Linked DNA regions of Homo sapiens. The protein of the gene in region 2 purifies or fractionates together with the protein of the main gene of each other region. This does not show direct contact. Each region holds a gene or a part of one and is shown on either strand. Other genes may lie near its edges. The genes, in order: ITIH2, DCN, CHSY3, LONP2 and MRRF.

Region 1 (3,525 bases), on a different chromosome or scaffold from region 2:
CGGTTCAAAGCTTATGTGGGCTGTATTACAAATTCTACTTTCACTACAAACTTAGCATTCATCCATTACCAATAAATGTATTATTTAAGATAGGCCCTCGAATGCTGGGGAAAGACCACTGTGATGGGAATAATGCTTCTTAAGTGAATCATGATTTGAACCCAGAGGAAGTGTCTCCTTGGGATTTAGCCCAACACACTCACCTCCACTGGGCTGGATTTTCTCAATATACCTCTTGGCATCTGCAACCTGTGTTTTTGTAGCTGAAATTAAATCATTTCTCCAAGTTCGAATGTTCTGGTTGAAATCAATCACAGAGAAATGGTCTTCTGCTCTGAGGTCATCCAATATGGTCTTCATTGCTTCCACAGTCTATTTCAATAGAGAATAAAGACAGGTCCCATTACAGAAAATCTGAGCCTCAGAGGAACTAGGAAGACCAATCATTGATCCTGGTCATCTTTCAAGTTCTTCTCAAGCTAAACTTCTTCCAGAAAACCTCTTGAGCCCACCTCAGTCAATGCAGACCTGCCCCTTATTTATTCTGGGCATGTACTGTTGGCTTTTTGATAATTTTACTATCTATTTTGCTATGCACAACCAGTTTGACTAGTCTTTATGTTAAGGATCACAAACTTCGAGTGCCACCTTTATGATGCCTGAAAATAAAATACATTTCTCAAGTCCATCTACTCACCCAGTCTCTTAAACTATTTCCTCATCTTTCTCTTTAAACCACCACCATCACCCTCTTTCTCTAGCTTACGTGTGATGATTTTGATTCCAACTCCACTGAGAAACTGCAGCAGACAGAAGAACATTCCCACAGACTCCCACTACCATAAAATCCCAACCATCAATATTTGTACCCATACATTTTTCTTTCCTACCTGATAATAAAGAACAACTAGCAGTATTTCTACCTAATGCAAACCCATCTATTCATGAACTATTTCATTCCCTCTCTTTGACTAAAGATCATGGCTCCAGCAATTGTCCTTTGCCTCTTCAATTTCCCTATTCTATTGGTACATTTCCATCAACAAAAACATGTTATTTCTCACCCTTCTACAAACCTCATGTGCATCCACTTTCTTCATTTCTCAGCTTTCTTCTGCAATAAAATTCCTTGAGGAATTGTCTAAACACACTGTCTCCAAATCTTCTCTTCCTATTCTCTCATAAGCCCAATCCTTTCGGGTTTTCATCCCTGTCACTCTACTGAAACTGCCCTTGTCAAGGTCACCAATGATGCTAATGTCACTAAATCCAAAGGTCCATCTTCATTTCTCATGCACCGGCAAGTGCTCTCATCTCCCTCCTGAACACAAATTCCTCAATTGTCTTCCAGGGCCTCATTCTCTCTTGATTTTTCTCCCCCACTTACTAATTGTTTTTATTAGTCTCTATCACCAATTATCCTCTTCTTCCCAAATTCCCAATATTGGAATGCTCTGTTGTCTGATCTTGGCTCCCTTGTCCATCTACTCCTCGGCATTCTCACCTAGTCCCAATGCTGACAGTACCTTCTATATGCTGGGGAGTCCTAACTGTGTGTCTCCACATCTCACTTTTGAACACCACGCTTCCATGGCCAACGTGGGTACTTAATAGAAATCTCAGACTTTGCATCCAAAACCAAACTGGGACATTCCCTGCAATGTCTGATTACATTTCTGTCTTTGTCAACTCATGGATGGCCACTTCATCCTTCTAGTCACTCAGGCTAAGTCCTGGGGCATCTTTCACTTCTCTTTTCTTCCCTTGCCTCACAGCTAGCCCTTCAGGATATACTGTTTACTCTACCTTCAAAACAGATTCCAGAATCCAGCTCTGATCATGACTGCACAGGTGTTCCATGAGCCACCTTGCCTCTCACTTCTCAGATCTCATCTCCCACTGCCCCTCTCTACTGGCATCTCTCTCTGTTCTTTGCACACTTTCGACTTAGAACTGTTGCATGAGCTGTTCATTGCATTTAATTCCCTTAGATATCTGCACAACTCTCCCTTCACCTTCTCAGGGTCTCCTCAGAGGTCTTCTCCAGGAAACCACCTATTTAGATGACAAGCCTATTTAAAATTGCATACCCCTGCAATTGCCACTCTTGGTTTTTAACATATGCTTCTTTTATTTTTTAAAAAAACTTTTATCAAAATGCTGCCATTGAACGTACTTGTACATTTGTACTTGCATGTGTATTGTTTATTCTCTGTCCCCTATCCCTCAGATGTAAGTTTCATAAGCACACAGAGGGTAGGCATCCGTTTTTTTTCTGTTTTTTGTTTGGTTTCTGTTTTTATGCTTTGGGTCTGTTTTGCTCATAGATGAACTAAGTGTATGACACATAGTAGGTGCTTCGTAAATATTTGTTAAATGAATGAGTGATGGAAGGAAGGAAGCAGTGAATAAACTGTTGTATTAGAGCAATGTTTCTCAACCAGAGGCAATTATTCCCCCCAGCGGACATTTGGCAATGTCTGACGTTATATTTGATTGTTATGATGCAGGGGAGGTTGTGCTACCAAAATTTAGCAAATAGACCATAGACCATGCTGCTAAGTATCCTGCAATGCACCAGACAGCCCTCCTACAACAAGGAATGACCCCATCCAAAATATCAATAGTCCCACTGCTGAGAAACCCTGCCTGGGAGTACAGACCCAGGCAGGCAGGGTCTGTGAAAGACAGGGTCTTCTTTTTCCTCTTCTTCGTCTTCGTCTTCTTCCTCTTCTTTTTTTTTTTTTTTTTGAGATGGAGTTTCGCTCTTGTTGCCCAGGCTGGAGTGCAATGGCGCGATCTCTGCTCGCTGCAACTCCCGCTTCCTGGGTTCAAGCAATTCTCCTGCCTCAGCCTCCCGAGTAGCTGGGATTACAGGCATGCACCACCACGCCTGGCTAATTTTGTATTTTTAGTAGAGACAGGGTTTCTCCATGTTGGTCAGGCTGGTCTCAAACTCCCAACCTCAGGTGATCCACCTGCCTTGGCCTCCCAAAGTACTGGGATTACAGGCGTGAGCCACTGTGCCTGGCTGACAGGGACTTCTTTTAGGTTCCTTACAGATCTTAGGGTAGTAGTGAACTCTTGGGTGGTCAAAAATAGTTGCCCTATGACTGGTTAGTTGGTTGTTCAACTTGGTTGAATGGATGGATGGATTGATGGGTAAGTTAAATCATTTCCTTGTTTGGTCTTTAGTATTGCATCTGTACATCTCACTTATCACTAAGTAAGCCTATATTGAGCTCTGAGCTGGAAAACATAAGATGGATAGCTGCTCTCAAGCAATTACCATATAATTAGAAATAATATGTATATATTGAATCAATAGTCATATGTGGACAATGACAAGATATTATAATAAAACATGTGGAAGAGCAAAAAGAATGTGACTGATCCTTGAAAGAAGAGGTTATATAGAGATTCTGTTTTTCAAAGAGGTGAGTTTTGAGACAGTTTTTCAAGGAAATATTGGATAGAGAGTGGAAAAGAGAAAGAGAAGGAAGAGGAAACAGGAAAGAGGAAGAA
Region 2 (2,442 bases):
CTTTATACGAAGGAAGAATTGCCTAATCCCTCAAGTAAACTAAAAATGTTTTATACAGTCATTTCTCATTCATCCAATGTTCCAGGCAGTCCCAGTCCAAGACTGCCCCTTCACACACACAACAACTCTTCACAAGACTTCACTGTCCTTCAGACTCTCCTGCAGCACAGACATTCGAGGTTGCTGAGTCGACATTGCAGTTATTTCACTCTTGATTTTGCTGCTCAATTTTAAGTTTCCACACTTATTGCTAAAACATTCCTTCTAGTGGATCTGTTTATGTATTCAAGCACACCATCTGTCACAATTATTTCAAATCACAGGTCTGTGACAGACTGTCAATTTCACACCACAAAGTATAATAGTGGAAAACAAAGTAAAATCAAGAAAGGGAGAACACTAAACTTATTAAAACCATATACAAGCATACGCATTCAGGAAACTAAAACAACCTTCAAAGAAGTTGAACAATTTTGAGCCAAAAGAAAGGGCATATGCACACCCTACCCCAGTATAAGATAACCAGAAAAGGACTGGGTGAGTTGCCTCCTGAGTATTATGACTGCCATCAATCACTTAGGCATTGGAGATCAGGAGACTCTTCCCAGGCCACACATTCTGCAGTGACTGTGAGGGCTGAATGAATGCTTCCAGGCCATCAGGAACAAGCATAGAAACACAAATCAATTTTAAAATACACTCAAAAATGTCAAAATAATCCAACTTTTTTGTCTTGATCAGATATATCTACTAGCACATATTACTTCATTTTTTCAGCCAATATTTATTAATAACCTACTGTGTGCTTGACAGTGTTCTAGTGGCAGAGACACAGCAGTGCATAATGCCTTGCCCTCTGAAGCAGATGTTGCAGCAGGAGGAGACATTCCAGGACATGACAATTAAAGTGGAGGAATGTCAAGCAGAACTGGGGAATAAGGGATGTGAAGGGGGTGAGACTTGCTATTTTATATAGGATGGTCGGAAAAAGGACTTATCAGGAGTGACATTTGAGCAGGGAGATGAAGAACTGAAGGGAGCAAGCCAAGAAAAGAGGCCCTGAATTTGGAAAATACATGGCACGTTCCAACAAGAGCAGAGAGGACAAACGTGAGCAGAGTAAAGTGAGCAAGAAGAGATAATATATGATACAAGGTCAGAAAGGTAATGACAATCGCATCCTGTAGGACTTTTTAGGCCATTGTAAAGATGAGCTTTTACTCTGAGTAAGACAGAGAGCTATTAGAGGGGTCTCGGTAGAGGAGTGACTTGATTCAACTGTCTTTGAGAGGATCCCTTTGCGTGTATAGACTGTAAGGTAACAGGAATAGGCCAAGAGAGAATATTTCGGATGCTAGTGCAATAATCAGGTGAGAGATGATGAAGACTTTGACCTGGATAATAGTAGAAAAATTGTTGAGAAGGGATCAAAATATGGGGTTTGTTTTGATGGTAGAGAGGCCAGGGATGGCTGAATGATCAGATGGGGCATGAGAGAGAAAGAAAAGAAACAGAGATGACTTCAGGAATTTTGGCCTGGGCCACTGGAAGGATGAAGTCACCATTTACTGAGATGGTAATGACTGGGAGGTTGAGCTGGAAGAACTGAGAATCAAATATCTGGTTTTGAATCTGTTCTTTTTGAGATGCATATTCAACTTCCATATGGAGGTGTCAAGGAGGATTTAGATCTAGAATTTTGGAGCTCAAGGGAAAGGGTTGAGCTGTAGACATAAATTCTAGAGATGCCGGAATATAGATTGTGATCCTTCTTTATCAGCACAGAAATGACTTGACTTTGTCCAAACTAAGCAATCATACTGTACATGTTAGCAACACATTTTACAGGGCCAATTTGGCCTTTTGCAATGTTCTGTGGTTTCTAAGATAAATAAACATATTATATGTTTCCCTCTGGATGCCTTTGCTATGATCCTGTCAGCATTTCCAAAACAGTTCTTGCTTGAACACCACCAAGGAAAGAAAAAAACCTCTTGAGAAAGAAATCATTGTTTTTTTTTTTTTTTTTTTAAATCCCTGTGTTTTGGCTTATGAGTTTAAAACTTACAAAAACAGTCTAGTTTCTGTTTTCTTCAAGAATTCACATTAACAAAAGTGTGGCTTGGTGCCTGTTTTGAATGTGAGTTGATAACTTGCTGGTGGTTTGACAGTTATAAACAAACAGTCTTATAGCATAAAGAAAGCATATTCCTGAAACTGCAGGAGGTCTCATTGAGCCTCAGGCACTATACCAGCATGTTTAACTAGAAAATCATGAAAACACATACAACTTCTATAGCTAAGGCCATTTTTACATGGAATTGCAGCATAAAATGACTCCATCTAATTCTGTAAAAGTTTATATTGATGACTACTTTATAAAGCACCCATATTGCCACTTGGTCTGACAAAGATATGTGAAAAATATAAAAAATTTCTTGA
Region 3 (3,360 bases), on a different chromosome or scaffold from region 2:
ATTTTCCATTGCTCCAAAAGTTACCTTGTGCCTATTAGTAATCAACTCCTGTTTTGTTTTTGTTTTTTGTTTTTTGTTTTTTTAATATTTTAAAGTTTCTCAGTTAAGACTGGGCACGGTGCCTTATGCCTGTAATCCCAGACCTTGGGAGGCTGAGGTGGGAGGATCACTTGAGCCAAAGAGTCCAAGACCAGCCTAGGCAACATAGTGAGACCCATCTCTACAAAAGAAATTGAAAAATTAGCCGGGTGCGGTGGCATGCACCTATAAGTCCTAGCTACTCAGGAGGCTGAGGTGGGAGGATTGCTTGAGCCCAGGAGCACTGCAGTGAGCAGAGATCAGGCCACTGCATTCCAGCCTCGGCGACAGAGTGAGACCCCATCTCAAGAAAACAAAAAACAAAAAAGTTTCTCATTTATATAGCTATGATCATTTCAGAAATGACCTATGCTATGTTTTCATTATTAATAATTCTAAGAAAGGTAATGAAAGTTTAATGCGGTAGAAGAGTAAATAATTCAACATAAAACTACCTCTTGGCATTTATTCTTCTTCTGTTAGGTTTTTTGAGAAGATTTTCCTAGAGGCTCTCAGATAATCTTTCTCAGAGGGTGAGATCATGTGTGATACGCTTAAAGCACTGGGGTCAGTCGGGGCACACTGGTGTTCATTGCTGCTGTGATTTTGTTGTTGTGAAATGATTTTTCTTTGCCGTGTAATGTTCTGGAGGTTCCATGAAATCCACTGATAATTCTTTAAAGGAGAGGAAGCCAGCTTAAACTAAAGGTTCTTAATTATTTCAAGCAAATTAATATAATTTTTAAAATAAATTTTACACATATTTTTCTTAGAACAATTTCGCTATGTTCAAAATGTATCATGATCTATAGAAAAACTGAAAATCATGAGAATTCTAGTTTTAATTTTATTCTCATCATTCTCAATAGACACTTGGGTGAATAACTCTGGGAAAATCTCTCTGATATCTTCTCTCTCTCTCTGTCTCTCTCTCCAGGCCCACATATCCACACATTTATGAACATACATGTCAGAAAAGCATATCTAATTCTATGTGCATATATATGCATACTTTCAAAATAAAGTCCTTCATTAATTGGAGTATAGCAGATAAATATATCTTAAGCAGCAGTTCAGTGAATGTTCACATATTAAATGCACACATATGACCACCACCTGGATAAATAAAAGAACATTACCAGCACTCCAGAAGCTTCCCTCTTCTTGATTCTTGATCATTATTCCAACAGCAAACCATATAGGTTAGCTTTACCTGTTTCTGAATTTCACATAAATGGAATAATACAAAATGTATATGGCTTCTTTCATTTTTTGTGAGATTCATCCATGTTGTTGCAAGTAGTATTTCAAGTATTTAATTGATGTATTGTTTTTCATTACATGAATATACTACATTTATTCTGTTCTTGATGTAAATTTAGGTTATTTTCAGTTTTGGAGTATGAATAATGCAGCTACGAAAATTATTCTATATATATTTAGGTGTATGTATGTATATATATATATGTATTTCTATTGGGCATATATCTAAGAGAGAATTACTGACTCATAGGGAATATGTATGTTCATTTTAGTTGATACGGGTTTTCTCAGTGATAGAACCAAGTTATATTCTCACTAGCAGTGTATGAGAGTTCCAAATTTTCCACTGCCTTCACAATGCACAGTATTATCTATCTGTTTTTTTGTGGATCCATCACGTTATCCCATAGTAATTTTAAGTTGCTTTACCTTGATGATGAATAAAGTAGAGAATGTTTTTATATGTCTATTGAGTATTTGCATACTCTTTTGTGAAGTACTCATTCAGGTTTTCTTTGTCACTTTTCTGCTAGGTTTGTCCTTCCTTTTTTCCTTATTTGTATAAGTTTATTATATGTTCTGGGAATTGGTTCTTTTTCATAAAATCTATTGAATTTTTTTTCTCCTGCTCTGTAATTGCCCTTTATTATTTTCCTAATGGTGTTTTTAAAGAACAAGGTTCTTAACTTTAACATAATGTAATGTATTAGTCTGTTTTAATGGTTAGTGCCTTATGCCCTATTTATAAAATCTTCACATACCCAAAAGTCTTGCAGATATTTTCATGTAAGTTCTAGAAACTTTTTAAAGCCTTTTTCTAAAATAAACCTTTATGTTTACATCAACAGGTCATCCATTGTAGGATGTAGGGGATCCGTTTTTACTTTTTTCCCTTATATGAATATCCTACTGATCTGGCACTAATTACTTAAAAGACCACCCTTTCTCCAAACTGTAAGCTCTATTTTATATTTCTATTACTTTGCTAATTTTTTTCAAGTCTCTTCTTCCTACGTTTTTCACAAATCTCTTTTTATGCTTCTTGCAATATGTCTATCAATGATTTTATTTTTTTCTCCCTTTTTTCCTTAGCCCTGCCAGTTTACTTTTTATCTTTTTTAAGCTTATTTGTCTATTAATTGAGTTTTTTTTTTGAAGAGGCTGTTTTTTTAAATTTATGTACAATTTGTACCTGCTTCTGATGAGTATTCTTAAGTTTGCAATATTTCTTTCTTCTTATTCATCAGTATATTTGCAGACATGGTGCTGCTGGCCTTTTTTCTTCTTTTTCACCTCCTTCTCCTCATCCCCTCTTTTCTTCCTTCTTTTTATTGTTCATAATCACGTATCTCGAGTGGGTATAATGGAGGTGTCTTAATCGACTGGCAGAAAAGGAAGAATCAGCTGGCGGTTTGAACTTTGTCCTCATAACTACATATTTTTTTTCATTTTTGTTTCTGCCTGAACTAGTGAATTTGTTCTAGACTAGCAGAAAGTCTTTTTGTTTCATAAGGATGTCAAGCATGTCTATTTTGGGTATGATACTTTACATCAGGAGTGTAGATCAGTATAGTTTCCGTTTCACCTTATCTTACCAAGAACTTACTCGGTAAAAATAGTATATCAGGATGCTAAATGAAATTTACGACTCCCCTGGCAAATAACTTCTTATTGCCATTCCAAACAACAGGTCATTGGTTTTCCTCCTTAGGGTGAATCCTTATTTTGGAAGACTCATGCTGTGTCCATTCTGTCTCTCTCCTTCTCCGTGATCTGTTATGGGGTTATGGACACAGTCAATTGTTGTTTTATGTATAGCTAGAGGTTCATTTGCAATATTTGAGCCTATGAACCTGACATTTGTGCTCTCACTCATATATAGAAATCAAAAAGTTGATTTCATAGGACTAGAGTGTGGAATGTTGGTTACCAGGGGCTAAGCCAGCTGGAGAGAGGGGTTGGGGAGATTTTTGTCAAATGATACCACATTTCAGTTAGATAGGAGGAATAAATTCAAGT
Region 4 (2,800 bases), on a different chromosome or scaffold from region 2:
ACAGTTTTTCCTTTGTGAGTAATTTTTATTGTAATATGTATGATTTTAAGACCCACCTTTCTGCAAACTTCAAACGTATGTAAGTGGCTGTAGATAGCTTAGCTCACCAAAATAATAGTGTGCTGCCTCCAACCCCCAAAAGCTCTTCATATTTAGAAACATCTGCAGTGATTCTACTAATGGTAGAATTCTATTTCATTCACACTCCTGATTAGAAGAATTGGTAAGTAATCCAAATTAAGAAAATAATGGATCAAATCCAACATACCTGGGGGGTCAGTCTGTGACTGCTGCATTAGAATGGACATAAAAGTAATGTCGAAACTCGACAGGGTGAATAGTGTGTGTGAACTACCACGCAGGACTGTGGTATTTGTGTAGGTTAAACATGAAAGGTACAGATAGAGTGTTACAGAGACCCGGAGTTTGAAGCTTTGTCATTCCCCTCCCCACTCATCCAGTGTGCATGTTCAAAGCACAAAGGAGTATTTGGTAGTTTACTGCTTATGATCCTAACCTGAATTTACCAAAAGAAACGTACGTTTATCTAAAAATGGCACCATCCAAACAAAATTCCTTATCAAGCATCTACTAAGATTTGGTGGCAAACAGTGTGGGTTGTAGATTCTAACTGCCTGGGTTGACTTCTGACTCTGTATCTACCAGTTTTTATTTAAATACCTTCTCTGCCTGGTCCCTCCTCCACAAAAGGGTATGATGTCCACTGCGTAAGGGAATGAGGAAGGCTAGATGTGCTATAAAGTGCTTATTATGCCTGACTTGATACCCCAGTGTCTTGCTGAACCAAATATTTTCGCTATCCTTATATAGCTCTAGAAACTTGACAAAGAAATACACTTTATTATCATAGATGTAATTTTCTTAGGCCTTTCTGAATTCTGAAAATAATAACAGGTTTACAGATATAAATAATGGAGCAAAAGGACACCTGGTTTTGGGGTCACATTTTGACAGGCTTGCACTGTCATGTCAGGATGAGGATTTAGCCTCAAGAGTTTGTATTGCCTAGAAATGTGCTGACAGTGTCATTAAGTACAAACTACAGTATTTCCAAAGAAATGAATTTTCATGACAAAGCTTTTCCTAAAATTGTTTTAGAAGTCCTTTTGCTGTAACTTTTAAAACATCTCAATGACCACTCACCATATTTGCCTGTTGTCTATTCAGACCTTTTTGATATTTCCTTCCTCTTTCAGCATTTTTGTTTTTTAAGTGCAGTTTTCATTGTGGTATCCACCAAATGTTTGTAAAACAAACAAAAAAAATGAGCATTAGTGTTGGACCATAAATCATCAAATTGGATAATGACTAACTGTAGTCTTTTTTTTTTTTTTTTTTTTTAGCTGCTGGATACAATTTTCATGGCAATAGGAACTGAAGTACTTCAAATAATGTGAGCTTAAACATGTTACTTCATTGAAACAACCAAAACTACTTGATGTTTACATCTAAAATCCTGGTTAAAATAAATTTTAGATTTGGAAAGGGAATTGGCAAAACTAACATTCTTTGTAGCAAAATGTCCCTTAGTAATAGTCAAGTTGACCTCATTTCAGTAGTTCATAAAGGAAAATCCAAAGCCCTCAGCAGTGAATTACCTGGCCACATAGCTGATTTTGGTCACTGTGAATGCAGACCAATCACCTAGTACTGGAAGCTCACAGTGGTAGACATCACTATCACAGTACTTTACGGTCATGGATTTCTCGTGAACTATTTCAGGAACAATCACAAAGATGACATTCTTCACTGTATTTGCATTTGTAACCACCAAGCAAGTAAGGATCTCTGCCCCAGATGCATGGTTTGAGGTAAGGTTCACAGGGACCACTAAAGGGGCAGAGCCAAGTAAAAACATGGATGTCTCCAGTGGACAGTGTAGGATTTCTTGATAAGCAAAGCACCTAAAGCTTTTAGTTTTAATACTTGAGAAGTTTTAAAAACCCATGCATAAAACGTGGAATACCGGTAAAATACACATATCCCTAAGTCTAGTTTAAACTAAAATTTCTAGAGTTAATAATTTTCAATAAAAAAATCCAGCTTATTTTGATACAAGGGGTCTTTGGGTAACATCTTAAAAATCAATGCTAGAAAATGCTCAACATCACTAGTCATTAGGGACATAGAATCAAAATACGTCACACCCATTTGGAGGGCTATTATAAAAAACCCAGAAAATGAGTGCTGGCAAGGATGTGGAGAAACTGGAACATTTGTGCATTGCTGGAAGGAATGTCAAATGGTGCAGCTGCGGTGGAAAAGTTTGGCAGTTCTCAAAAAGTTAAACAGAATTATCCTGTTGTCTTAGTCATTTGTGTTAACCGTAACAGAATACCTGAGACTGGGTAATTTAAAAGTACGAATTTATTTCTCATAGTTGTGAAGACTGAGAAGCCCACGATCAGCGTGCTGGCAGACTGGTATCATCTATTGAGGGCCCAGTCTCAGCTTCTAGGACGGGGCCTGTTGCTGTGTCCTCATATGGTGGAAGGGAATCGAAGGGCAAAAAGGAGGTAATTGGTTCCCTTGAGCCCCTTTATAAAGGCACTAAATCCATTAATGAGGATGGAGCTCTCATGACATAATCACCTCCTAAAGCCTCACCTATCACGTTGGTGGTTGCTTCAACATACGAATTTGGTGGGGGGACATTCAGACCTTAGCATATGTGATCTAGTAGTTCTGCTCCTGGATATGTATCCCTAAAGGACCTAAGAAGGGACTTCAAGAGAGATGTGTACACCCATGTTCATAGCATTACTCATAATACCCAAGA
Region 5 (3,525 bases), on a different chromosome or scaffold from region 2:
TAAAAAGCTGAATACAAAATTGTATATATACTATATGTTCTCAATCATGTTTAAAACTATGTAGTTTTTTTTTTTTTTAGAAAAAAGGAAAAAAGAAATATTCCAAAATGTTAAGAGCGGTTGCCTCTCCAATGTGGGAGGGGAGGATGAACTTTCTCCAATGAACATATATTACTTTGATAATAAGGAACAAAAGTAAACAAAATTTTAAAACTGTCTGATGAAGCGACAATCAGCCATAACCTTGTTTTATATCTTTAAAACATGCACGCACACGTACACACACACACACACCAAAAATTCCAGTCTGGGGCCTTCTGACAGTAGAAAGAACACCATGAAGTATATATAAGGCTCTCTACTGTTCCAAACTTTTAACTCTATGACAGTAAATTAAGTTATTAACAATCCTGGTTAAGAATAAACATTTAGCTGGGCACTCATGCCTGTAATCCCAGCACTTTGGGGGGCTGAGGTGGGCGGATCATCTGAGGTCAGGAGTTCAAGACCAGCCTGGCAAACATGGTGAAACCTCATCTCTACTAAAAATAAAAAAATTAGCAGGGCATGGTGGCACGTGCCTGTAATCCCAGCTACTCGGGAGTCTGAGGCAGGAGAATCGCTTGAACCCAGGAGGTAGAGGTTGCAGTGAGCCAAGATTGCACCACTGCACTCCAGCCTGGGTGACAAAAATAAAAAATAAATAAAAATAAACATTTAAATAATAATATGTTTAGAAAGATATCTGTGATATATCGTATCATATAAATTGTATGATACTTTTTCTTGTTTCGAGAGATAACTTGAAGTTCTACACTAAAATGTTAACAACAGTCATCTGAGTGATGAGATTTCAATTACTTTCTTCCTTGTTTTAACAGCAAAACGAATACAGCTATTTTCACTTAAAAAAATCACAGTAAGAAGCACTAAAGAAAAAAAATTTAATCTGAAGAGGATGGCGAAAAGCCAGTGCTAATGAGTGAAGGCTTCCAGCAAGGTCTTTGTCAAGAGGGTTTTATCAAGAATGCTTGCTATCTGATCATTCTTCCTCTTTCAGGAGTTGTGGGCTCTGGTCCCTGAGGCAGATGTCCTGGCTTGCTGAGTGACTAGTGCCTGGCAGGCCCTGAAGGTCCATAGGCTTACCACCAAGAAGCAATGACAAGGGAAAGCAGTGAAGAAATCCCCTAGGAGAAAGACAAGGAGCCGGCCCAGCTGGAGCCAGGGCCCAGACTATTAATGAGGCCTGGTCAGTGCACAGGAAAGGCCCGCCTAATCTCTGAACCTCTTCTTTTAGCTGATACAGGGAAGGAGGAGGGCAGAGAGATGGCAAGAGGGGAGTTTTGAGGGTTTGGGTGTTAGGTACACTAATGGTGCTTTCTAGCATACCAAGGAAACCATTCAAGGCAGAAATTACCAATCCCTTTTTACAGAAAACAGACTCCAAAGAGTCAAGCAACTTCCCCAAGGTCATAGGACATCAAGTGCAGAACAATCTTTTTCTAACTCTAGTGTCATTACACAGGTACATTACCAGGCTTCTAGGTCATTATCTTCTATGTGTGCTTTTACACAATTACCTGAGAGCTTTTTAAAACTATACATTCCAGCTGGACGCATCTGTTATCCCAGCTACAGGAGGACTGCTTGAGCCCAGGAGCCCAAGACCAGCCTGGGCAACATAGTGAGACCCCATCTCAAGAAAAATGAATTAATAAAAGTAAGTAAAATAAAAATATACATTCCTAGGCAGAGCTACTGTATCAGAAAATGCAGGAGTAGGGCCCAGGAAGCCACCTAAAATTCCCCCCCCCAGGTGACTGTTGTGGCTGTCCTACTAGTAAAATGCTAGTAAAACTAGCATTTTAACTGCTGGTGGAGGAGAAGGGGAGCAGCTAGTCAACTTATGGACTTCTCCAGGGGTCCCTTGCTTCTCGCTTCTCTCTTCACTCCCTATCCAGCCCACATGCCTGTTCAATCTCCCTAAAACAATGCTTTATTGTGGATGAGGAGGCTTTAAGGCCTATCAAACCCTTTATATTACATTGAACATTACTAATTCTATCTCCACATCTTTCCACAGGTGCCACTCAGGTTCAGGCCACCATCACTTCCTGGCTGGATTTCTGCAGCAGCATCCCTATCGCCCTGCCTCCAGTCTTGCCCCCTACAATCTGTTTTCTACCTGGCCACCATAGTCATCTTTCATAAACATAGATGTGCTCTCTCCATCATCTAAAAAAAATCTTTTAAGTGTGTCACTGTATGAGAATCACCTGAGAAGGATTTAAAATACAGATTCCTGGCTCTGTCCCAGATTCATTGACTCAATCTCTGGAAATGGGGCCCCAGATACCTGGATTTTTATAAGCTACCCAAGTGATTAAGGTACTTTGGTAGAGAGATGCTGTTCAGCAAATATTCACTTCTTTCCCCAGACCTCCATAAATATATATATTTCCTTGTACCAAACATATTGAGCTTGGCCCATGTGACTTGCTTTGGCCAATCAAATGTGACAAGAGCAGGTGTTTAAAATGTACTTGAGTGGTTGGGCTTATGATCTTGGCATCTGCTGTTACCATGAAAAGAGGCCCTAGGAAACCTGTTGGCTTTGGAAGATTGAGAGATATAAAGCAGATTTGAACCCAATCCAAGATCTGGAGCCAAGCCCACTGAGCCCAGCCTAGAATAGCTACACCCCAGCTGGCCCATGGAAATGAGAACAAGAAATAATGCTTTGATATTGTCGATCACTGAGTTTTGGGGTAGTTATGTACCATTATTGTGGCCATACATGACTAATATAGATGCACAGCCAATGTGGGACAGTCTGTACATGTTAACGTTCAAACTCCTAAACCTGGTGTACGAGACCTTCCTTCTATTATCTAGCCACTCTGTTTTCTTTATTCATTCCCTAGTCTTATCCTACGTTCAAACCCCAATGATCTTAACTGAATATTGTTTTTATATCACCTTACCTTTGTACATATGGTTACACTTTTCCCCCTTGTCTCTCACTATTTTACTCCAGCAGCTTAAGACTTATTCAAGTGCCACTACTCAGCACACTGAGAACACTAAGTGCTCAATTCTCAGCAACCGGAAAACCAGACAGGAGAGCATTAGCGTAGAGGCTCTGAAATCCGTCTGCCTAAGTATGGATCCGATTTCTACCAATTTCCAGCAGTGTGATTTCGGGCAAGTTATTTAACTTGCCTGAATCTCAGTTTCCTTACTACCTACCTCATAGTTTTGTAGTGATGAGGGTAAATGAAGTAATATAAAGTGTTCAGCACAAAACCTGGTACACAATACAAGTGTCTTATCCTCCTCTATGGATCCCTCTGAATCTGGCATTAGGCTAGGCCCAGAACAGAGACTCAGACAATGGTGATAATGTGAATGAAAGATCAGAGGTATTCTGTTTTAACTGTCCTCACCTCAAACATGAACAAATGATTCCTTATGCTGAATACACAGACACTACTACATTGCTGGCAATAGTACCTGTTTCTCTAT

What was found.
Region 1: the proteins of DCN (region 2) and ITIH2 purify together in Homo sapiens (affinity purification with mass spectrometry; one large-scale study listed by BioGRID and IntAct). This does not show direct contact.
Region 3: the proteins of DCN (region 2) and CHSY3 purify together in Homo sapiens (co-immunoprecipitation; one large-scale study listed by IntAct). This does not show direct contact.
Region 4: the proteins of DCN (region 2) and LONP2 purify together in Homo sapiens (affinity purification with mass spectrometry, with the first as the bait; one large-scale study listed by BioGRID). This does not show direct contact.
Region 5: the proteins of DCN (region 2) and MRRF purify together in Homo sapiens (co-immunoprecipitation; one large-scale study listed by IntAct). This does not show direct contact.

The regions. Positions count from the first base shown.
Region 1 is NC_000010.11:7,723,797-7,727,321, reverse strand, and holds part of ITIH2 (inter-alpha-trypsin inhibitor heavy chain H2 precursor), read right to left. Parts: intron 373-3,525; coding exon 204-372; intron 1-203. UniProt on the Homo sapiens protein: May act as a carrier of hyaluronan in serum or as a binding protein between hyaluronan and other matrix protein, including those on cell surfaces in tissues to regulate the localization, synthesis and degradation of hyaluronan which are essential to cells undergoing biological processes.
Region 2 is NC_000012.12:91,139,961-91,142,402, reverse strand, and holds the end of DCN (decorin isoform a preproprotein), read left to right. Parts: 3' UTR 1-1,919; downstream 1,920-2,442. UniProt on the Homo sapiens protein: May affect the rate of fibrils formation.
Region 3 is NC_000005.10:130,180,465-130,183,824, forward strand, and holds part of CHSY3 (chondroitin sulfate synthase 3), read left to right. Parts: intron 1-1,995; exon of another isoform or gene 1,996-2,295; intron 2,296-3,360. UniProt on the Homo sapiens protein: Has both beta-1,3-glucuronic acid and beta-1,4-N-acetylgalactosamine transferase activity. Transfers glucuronic acid (GlcUA) from UDP-GlcUA and N-acetylgalactosamine (GalNAc) from UDP-GalNAc to the non-reducing end of the elongating chondroitin polymer.
Region 4 is NC_000016.10:48,355,075-48,357,874, reverse strand, and holds the end of LONP2 (lon protease homolog 2, peroxisomal), read right to left. Parts: 3' UTR 1,211-2,800; coding exon of another isoform or gene 1,165-1,210; 3' UTR 526-1,164; downstream 1-525. UniProt on the Homo sapiens protein: ATP-dependent serine protease that mediates the selective degradation of misfolded and unassembled polypeptides in the peroxisomal matrix.
Region 5 is NC_000009.12:122,313,375-122,316,899, reverse strand, and holds part of MRRF (ribosome-recycling factor, mitochondrial isoform 1 precursor), read right to left. Parts: coding exon 3,514-3,525; intron 1-3,513. UniProt on the Homo sapiens protein: Responsible for the disassembly of ribosomes from messenger RNA at the termination of mitochondrial protein biosynthesis. Acts in collaboration with GFM2. Promotes mitochondrial ribosome recycling by dissolution of intersubunit contacts.